Linked DNA regions of Homo sapiens: region 1 is linked to region 2. Evidence: fine-mapped expression QTL. Tissue or cell type: whole blood. Region 2 holds a variant in brackets; the other region holds the start of a gene. All regions are shown on one strand. Distances are from middle to middle.

Region 1 (4,000 bases), 35 kb before region 2:
CACACAGGTCAGAGGAGGAAAATAGACCTTCAGAGGCAATCATCATTACATGTTTCTTGTGGTATCTTCCAGAAATGGTCTATGCATGGCATGTATTACTTTGGAAATTTTCAAAATAAGATTTTTTTTTAAATATCAGATTGTTATTTTTTAAAATGACATCTAACATAACCAGCAAATACCAGTAATGGTGGTGATATATACATTATCCTTTATGTTGTAAATAAATTGTATTCAAATTAAATGCAATTTTCTCATGATCAAAACATTCTGCTTTCGATCATGTTTTGCCAGAGGAAAAGGTGAGCGCGCTTAGTGTATTGCCAGGTACTTAGAAAGTGCTCAAGATCTCTGGCGTCCTCAACAGTCTTGGTAACCATCTTGGATTATCTTTATTAATGGTTTTACAGCTCCCCTGACTGACAAACCTTCACTTCTTTCTTTCTTTTCTTTTCTCTTTCTTTTTTTTTTTTTTTCTTTTTTGAGAGACAGGGTCTCGCTCTGTTGCCCACGCTGGAGTGCACTGGCGCCATGATAGCTCAAAAGCCTAAGCTCAAGAGATCCTCCCGCCTCAGCCACCGGAGCAGCTGGGACCACAGGCACGAGCCACCACACCCGGCTAATTTTTGTTATTATTTTTTGTAGAGACCAGGCTTCACCATGTTGGCCAGGCTGGTCTCAACTACGGACCTCAAGCCATCCTCCCGCCTCGGCCTCCCTAAGTGCTGGGATTACAGGCGTAAGCTACCACGCCCAACCCCCTCATGTTTTCAAAACCGAAAGTAAGAGGCACAGTACATCTTGGAAACAACCAGGCAAAGAGCCAAAGAGGAAGCCCTCTGTACGAAAAGACCACAGGGCCCATGCCGCCCAGTTTGCTCTGGAGAATCTCACGCAGAAGGCAGGCGTTTTTCTTAAAAAAAAATGCACGAATTACAGCCAAAAGGCATGCGCTCCCGCAAAAGCCCTGGTTAGGCTTGACTTCAATCTCGATTGCTGCCATTTATCCCCTGTGTAATTAAGTTTCTTAAAATCTCGGTGCCTTAGTTTCTTCATCTGTGAGAGGCAGAAGATAACCATAGTAGTTATCTATGGCGGAAGATAACTGTTTTCAAAATTAAATGACGCAAAGCACATAAAGTCCTTGGCACACAGAAAGATGTCAATAACGGGTAGTTCTTATAATTTTTTAAAAGTGACATGTGATGGGAACAAATAAGTTAATTATTCGAAACCGCTTTGTATCACAGCCAAGCATTCTACAAACGTCGCGTGCTGTTTCCTCCCCACGGTGTGGCCCCACATAGACCCAGAGGTGCTAGGACATGCGAACTTAGCGGGCGCCTAGACGAAGTCCACAGCTCTCCAGTCTAAGGGAAGCAGAGCCGCAGCAGACAGGCTTACCCGGGCGACGCCTCCCCCAGACCCCAAGCGCCCCTCCACGCGTTCACAAACCTCAGCGCCGCGCCTTTGGGACGAGCCTACCCGTCCCCCACTCCAGCTGCGCTGGGGGAGCCAGAGGCCCCGCGAAAGAGCGGAAGAGAAACCCTCCCCCAACCTCGGCGCTCTGACGCTTATCGACGCCCTAAACTTTGTCCCGACCCTCCCGTCGCCGTAGGCCAAAGGTCTCCCCTGCTCCCCGCCGAAAGGGGCAAGTAGCGCGCGTCCCGGGTGCGCACCCCCTTCCCCACTCCCAGGCCACCCCGCCGCTTCCCCGAGATCCAGCCCTGGACTAGCCCCACGGCGGGCCACCAAGGAGAACTTGGAGAAGGGAAGTCACGGAGCGAGAGAGCACAGCGAGGGCCACAGAGGGTGCAGAGCGGGAGAGGAAGGACCAGAGCGGGAGGGTAGGAGAGACTCACGCTGGATAGCCTCCAGGCCAGAAAGAGAGAGTAGCGCGAGCACAGCTAAGGCCACGGAGCGAGACATCTCGGCCCGAATGCTGTCAGCTTCAGGAATGCCCGCCAGCGCGACGCCTCCACTTATATTAAACGCGTGCCCAGCCAATCAGGACAAGGCCCGCAGGGACCGTCACCTGTCTCCAAGCCAGCGACGCAGTGCCAGGTTAGAGAGAGGGACTTTCCCGTTTTCAGTTTCCTTTTCTTAGAGTCTCGTGATGTTTAAGAAGGCATGCACTAGACTGGGTGAGTTTGCTGTCTGTACATCGGCGCCCTCCGATCTGGGGTGCGCGCCCCAGCTTGGGACACCGGGCGCTCATTCTAGGACTTCAGGCTGGAGGCACATTAAGGCTGCCCCCTCGCTTTGCAGACTGGCCCCAGAGATGCTAAGTGACTTGCTAATGGTGCCCCAGCCAGTTAACTGCTCGGACCTGCATTTTTCATTCGAGAAAACGGAAACCCAGAAGATTAAGATCTTTGAATGCTACCTAGCAGAAGGAGAACTTCTGTTTATAACTACAGCTTGGGAATTCCCTGCAGGGTTTCTCCATTCTCTGGGTAAGAAAAATAGTCCCAAAAGCATCCTGAGGACAGCTCAGAGAAGGTCCTAGTGAAAGAGTACCTTTCTTGCTTCTTGTATCCCTTCAGGAAAAAGTGTTTGGAAAGTTCTGTGCCAAGAAGTTCCTCCCTATGTCCTTGCTGTTTAGGTAATTTTCTTTGTTCTGTTGATTTGTCGGGGGGCGGGGGGGAGAAAAAAACGACCACTAATAGTAAAAGCAGTAACTGCTAGGGCTTTAGAGCTTCCAGCGCCCTCTAGGTACATCATTCTCTTAGTTTCCACCCTAGAACAGGGGCTGGCACATAGTAGGTACTCAGTAAACCGAATGAACGAATGGATGGATGAATGAATGAATTAGTGAATATATAAATAAACTGTAGGAGGAAAGAATTACCCCCATTCATTTTATGGACAGGGGAAACAAAGGCTAAGAGACTAGAATTCAAACTCTGGCCTGATTCCATTGACATTAATATTTTAGACACTGGAAGACAAAGGGCTCGGCAATTTTAGTGAGAGTTTGGACTGCATCTGCCTTGGACCCAGCCAAGGACGTTAAACATGACAGGCAGACCCATTAAGAAAACCTACCCTCTAAAGTGACCATAAATAAGGTGCCGCCATTTCGTGGTGGTGGAGTCCACAGATCTTTTCTAAGAGGAACAGTGAGAAGAGGAAGTGGACCATGGCGATGGGGAGGGGCAGAGATCTTGGAAGTCACCATGGTTTTCAGTTGAAAGGATTTGCCTAGCTTCCCCAAGGAGCACAACAAATAACTTCTAGGTTTCTTTTACATATTTTTAGGCTTTTGATAATCTTTATTGTGGAGGCCATGCCTAAACTAAGAAAATGCAATACTCTCCATGGACCTAATGAAATGAGATAATGCACAAGAGAGAGCCTCCCACAATGCCTGGTACATAGTAAGTGTTCTGTAGTGTTTAATAAGCGCTATAATTATTAATATTATTTACCTAGTTTTTCTACCAGCCCTCTCAATAACTAAAATATGAGAATAATTGTTATGCCTAAATGTATGAGTTAAGACACTCTTGCTCCCTCCCTTTTCCCCCTTTTAAAAACTCATATAAGGCACTAAAGGCCTGAAATGTTAGTGTTGAGTTGTACTAGAAAAGTGCCTTAGAAGTTTAGCAAGGGACAGGGCTATTTTTGCCTCTAGTTTCTTGTTTACTACATCACAGAGAAACACTAAATTTAAAATCCATTACAGATAGATTCTGATTTACTCACTTGGAAAACCAATTTAAAAACCAATAAAAAACAGTACAGATAGAAAAAAGTCGATTTTACAGTTTTCTTTGGGGGGGAATACCTGTATTTTTCTTGGACTTACCATTTATGACATGTTTTGAATAGTGAGGGGGAAAATTATGTATACAACTATTTGTTTAAAAACAAGAGCACTGTTTGCCTAGGATGGCAAATTTGGGAAGTCTACAAACATGACAATTTCTTTTTTTTTTAATTTTTAATATTTTTGTGGAGACAGAGTCTTGCTGTGTTGCCCAGGCTGGTCTCGAAC
Region 2 (4,349 bases):
GATCAGTAGACATATGAGACTTCAGATAAGGGTAGGGGACCTTCATAAAAAACAGTAGGTCCCAAGTGAAACTCCAAACAGCCAGGGCAGGGCTGTGATCTTTAAGACTGAGCCCTAGTCCACCTGCTTTGGTACTAGTCAGTACCAGAAGTCCCTTCAGAATGAAAATCTTCATGCAACAAGTTTCTCCTTAAGATCTAGTCTCTACAACAACCTAATGAATCACCTCTGGAACACTGAAATTCACCATGTGGTCCTTTTGTTAATAGTGCTAAAGTACGTTATTAGGAAGTTCCTGAGAGAAACAGCTGAATAACATTACCAAAAAGGCCAGAACCCAGCTGGGTGTGGTGGCTTGTGCTTGTAATCCCAGCCCTTTGGGAGGCCAAGGCAGGTGGATTACTTGAGGTCAGGAGTTTGAGACAAGCCTGGCCAACATGGCGAAACCCTGTTTCTACTGAAAAAAAATATATATATATACAAAAATTAGCTGGGCATGGTGGTGGCCGCCTGTAATCCCAGCTACTCGGGAGGCTGAGGCAGGAGAATCTTGAACCCGGGAGGTGGAGGCTGCAGTGGGCCAAGATCATGCCACTGCACTCAAGCCTGGGTGACAGAGTAAGATGCTATCTCAAGATATATGAGAAGTTTTTCAGTAACTTTCAAGCTACTTATATTTGTTCCCCCACCCATATAGTTATGACCTGCAGTAAAACTTCTGAAACAAATATTTTCCTTTAAAGGCACCAAGAATCATGGTCTTATCACCATGACAAGAGGGTCCTAACTTTCATTTTTGATGTAGGGAAATTAACTTAGTTTTTATTCTTATTCAGAAGTTCTACAAAGTCATGTGGGTTTCAGCTGAACACAGGATGTGGGCACAGAACCCAGGGTTGCTTGAGGGTTAGATGAGACTTGGGAGGGTGTTGGGTTTTGCCTACCAGGAGCAGCTATGTTTTTGTTTTTGTTGTTGTTGATTTGTTTTTACTCCTGAGCTTCTGGACCAGTTTGCCATTAGAGCAGCCAAGAAGATGTAAGACTGTGTATCTCATGCAAAAGTGTTTTTACCATGAAGATCTGACTTCCAAATTCACAGGGGTCTCTCATCAGTCAGAGCTGAGTAGCTGACTTAAGCTCACATGACCCGGTGAAGGGCAAGCATCATCAGGTGGACTTGAGGGCTTCAAGTACGCTGCCCTGAAGCGCCAGGAATGTGGTTGCTAGGCATCCTCCCCAGGATCTACCCAGGACTTTCCTATCCAATTTTGTTGAAGCAAAACCTAGGGATTAAATTAAATGCAACCTCACAAACTACCAATGAAGGGTGTGGAAAACAGGGATCCTCTTTTTAACTATCTGCCCCCAAATATCAATCCCAATAAACTGTACTAAAAGCCATGGATGGCTAAAAATGCAGTTTATGTCTTTTCTCCATTCAAGCGTTTTTTTAATCATTAAACTATGTTCTCATATTTCCATCAGGCCCCAATGGATGGAGGATGCTAGCCCTTTAATGGGTGAGCAGGGGAGGAGCTGGGACTTTTAAAGCCAGGAGCGGCAAACAGGTCCTGGCCCAGGCTGCTATGAATAACTTAAACAGAAAGGACAGCAACAGTCAGGTGGTGGGTGTCGGCAGCAAGGCATCACCACACTCGGACGGTGACTGGTGATGTCGGTTGGGAAGTACTTCTCTTCCTGCTTCTAGCCTGTGCCTCATTTCTGTCCCTTTGTGGGACAGCTCCCTAGAGCCGAGCTGGGAGGGTGGGTGTTTATGGCAGTCTGAGACCCCAGGGTCTCTCTCCTCAAGACCATGGCCAAGAATTCTCTAACCATCTTGCTGGGAGGATTCCATGGCTGTTTTAGGGTGCCATGTCATCCTTACTGACTGAGGATGGTGCCTCTTGGCCTCTTTC[T/G]TGTCTCAGGTTTACCTTCCAGAGGCTGGCAATGCTGTTTCACTGGAGGACACGGCTAAGAAGGAAGTCCACCAGCCTGCCAAGATGAATTGCCTTGAAGGTATCAACAAGTGGGCCGTGATGTTATATAAAATGCCCCAGCATGCAGAGGTTGCTGGTCTGTTTCACATATGGGATTGGATGTCCAGAGTCACTGGAAGTTATTCCAAATTCTTCCACTTGCTAATTATATCATAATGGGTGACTGAAAGGTCACTCTTCTGGGCTTTATTTTTCTCACCAACCTAGTAAAATTATCAACAACAACCCAGGACAGCCTCATATTACTGTTAAATGAACATATGCACGTAAAGTATATGGCACACAGTAGGGTTAAATTGCAGTGAGTCAGGGCAGGTGGAACTTGTTCAAAGAGGCAATAGAAAGGGCGTTGGGTGGGGCAGAGCAGATGGAAAAGGCTGTGCTAGAACTTAATGAAGGAATTGAAGAGGGGATGTGAAAGTGAAGGTGTTTGGTATCTGCCGGGTTCCTTTTGTTTGCTTTTTAAATTTTTTACTTAGAGACAGGGTCTCACTGTGTTGCCCAGGCTGATCTCAAACTCCTGGGCCCAAATGATCTTCCCGCCTTGGCCTCCCAAGTAACTGGGACTACAGGCACGAGCCACCACACCTGGCTCAGGTTCCATTTGACTTACTGGGGGATGGTTCGGGGCACCTTGGGAGAAGGGAGGCCGAGTTAAACCCACAGAACAGGAGGCGTTATGTTCAAAGGTGGTGCTGGAGATGGCTTATGAACAGAAGTGCTATTGAGTAGCAGCCTCTCTAGACAAGACTCACAGCTGAGCCCCATCTTACCTTCTCCTCTGGCCCACACTTAAACCAAGGGCCAGGTAAGACCTGTGGCCCCTTGGCTTCTGAGGAGGAGCTGGTGTCTGCCTGCCAGTTGGAAAAAGAAGAAGAGAATGAAGGGGAGGAGGAGGAAGAGGAGGAGGACGAGGAGGATCTGGACCCAGATCTGGACCCAGACCTAGAGGAGGAAGAGAATGATCTTGGGGATCCAGCTGTACTTGGTGCTGTCCACAACACCCAGGTACCATGGCAGAAGGGAATGGGAGAGGGTTGTCCTGAACTGTCTGTGGCTCACAGGCTGTCACTAAACATTCCTCTTCTCTTTTCTACCCTTTTCTAAGACAAGTTCTGGATTAACACTTTCTTTTTAAGCCTTGAACTTGAGTTAGGGACTCTCTCCTTCCCTCTTTCTCCTGTCTCCCACTTCATTTCTGATGCTGTTCTCGCCTTAAAACCAGGTCCTAGCAGAGCTGTGCATCGCCCACAGGCGGTGGCCCTGCTACTAGCGTTAAAGGTGAGTCACGTTTGCCTGATCCTGGGCCCCTCTGTCTCAGTAGTCCATTCCTGGTATTTATTCCCCTGGATCCCATAACTAGTGGAGAAGGACAAGGACTCCTATGTAGATATGAGGTGATTTCAGAACTTCCTTCAACCTACTACTAAGGTACAGTAGTCCATGGTTTCACTTTCTGCCATTTCAGTTACCCTTGGTCAACTATAGTCTGAAAATAGGCAAGTATAGTACAATAAGGTATTTTAAGAGAGACCACATTCACATAACTTTTATTACAGTATATTGTTATAACTGTTCTATTTTTATTGTTCATTTCTTATTGTGTCTAATTCTTAAATTAAACTGGCCAGGGGCAGTGGCTTATGTCTGTAATCCCAGCACTTTGGGAGGGTTGCTAGAGGCCAGGACTTCCACACCAGCCTGGGCAACAAAGCAAGACCCTGTCGCTACAAAAAAAAAGAAAAAAAATTTTCAAAAATTAGCCAGATATGGTAGCACATGCCTGTAGTCTCAGCTACTTAGAAGTCTGAGGCAGGAGGATGGCTTGAGCTCAGGAGTTTGAGCCTGCAGTGAGCTATGATGGTGCCACTGCACTCCAGCCTGGGTGACAGAGCAAGACCCTGACTCTAAAAAAAATTTTTTTTAAATATATATATAAACTATCATAGGCATGTATATATAAGAAAAAAGCACTATACACAGGGTTTAGTACTATCCAGTTCTAGGCATCCCTTGGGGGTCTCGGAACATATATGTCTCATGAATAAGGGAGGACCACTGCACTAGTCTTATTCCTCCCAGGAGAGGGAGAGGGATCCTGGCCCAGCTGACTTTGAATCTGAGGGAGGGCCAAGCTGCCACTGCCCTGGATGTTGGAACACCTGGTCTTGCTGCTTCCTCCCACCACCTCAAAAACACAGGTGAATGCAGAAGACACTACAGGGGCCCATTTGAGCCTGGTTTTTCCTCCCTCCTGTTCCAGAGAGCTCTGCTTAGCTCCCCTGGAGTCAAGGCCCCTGGTATGCTGGGAATGTCACTTGCCTCCTTGCATTTTCTGTGGCAGGTGAGTCT

What was found. PIP is the estimated chance that this variant, and not a neighbour inherited with it, causes the effect.
Region 1: it holds the start of PATL2, and the variant in region 2 is fine-mapped to the expression of PATL2 in whole blood (TOPMed, PIP 0.94).

Annotation. Positions count from the first base shown.
Region 1 is chr15:44,709,476-44,713,475 of GRCh38, reverse strand. PATL2 (PAT1 homolog 2) reads left to right here and starts at 2,153. Exons shown (of 18, transcript NM_001387263.1): 1 at 2,153-2,456; 2 at 2,547-2,605; 3 at 3,262-3,380. It overlaps B2M (beta-2-microglobulin), which reads right to left and starts at 1,959. Exons shown (of 4, transcript NM_004048.4): 1 at 1,863-1,959. The coding sequence starts at 1,929. RefSeq lists an enhancer at 1,476-2,138.
Region 2 is chr15:44,674,142-44,678,490 of GRCh38, reverse strand. PATL2 (PAT1 homolog 2) reads left to right here. Exons shown (of 18, transcript NM_001387263.1): 4 at 1,926-2,016; 5 at 2,800-3,005; 6 at 4,261-4,341. The coding sequence starts at 2,001. Among named protein-coding and RNA genes, the nearest start is that of SPG11, 13 kb to the right of the region's middle. RefSeq lists an enhancer at 2,772-2,821. The variant T/G (reference allele first, on the strand shown) is at 1,917.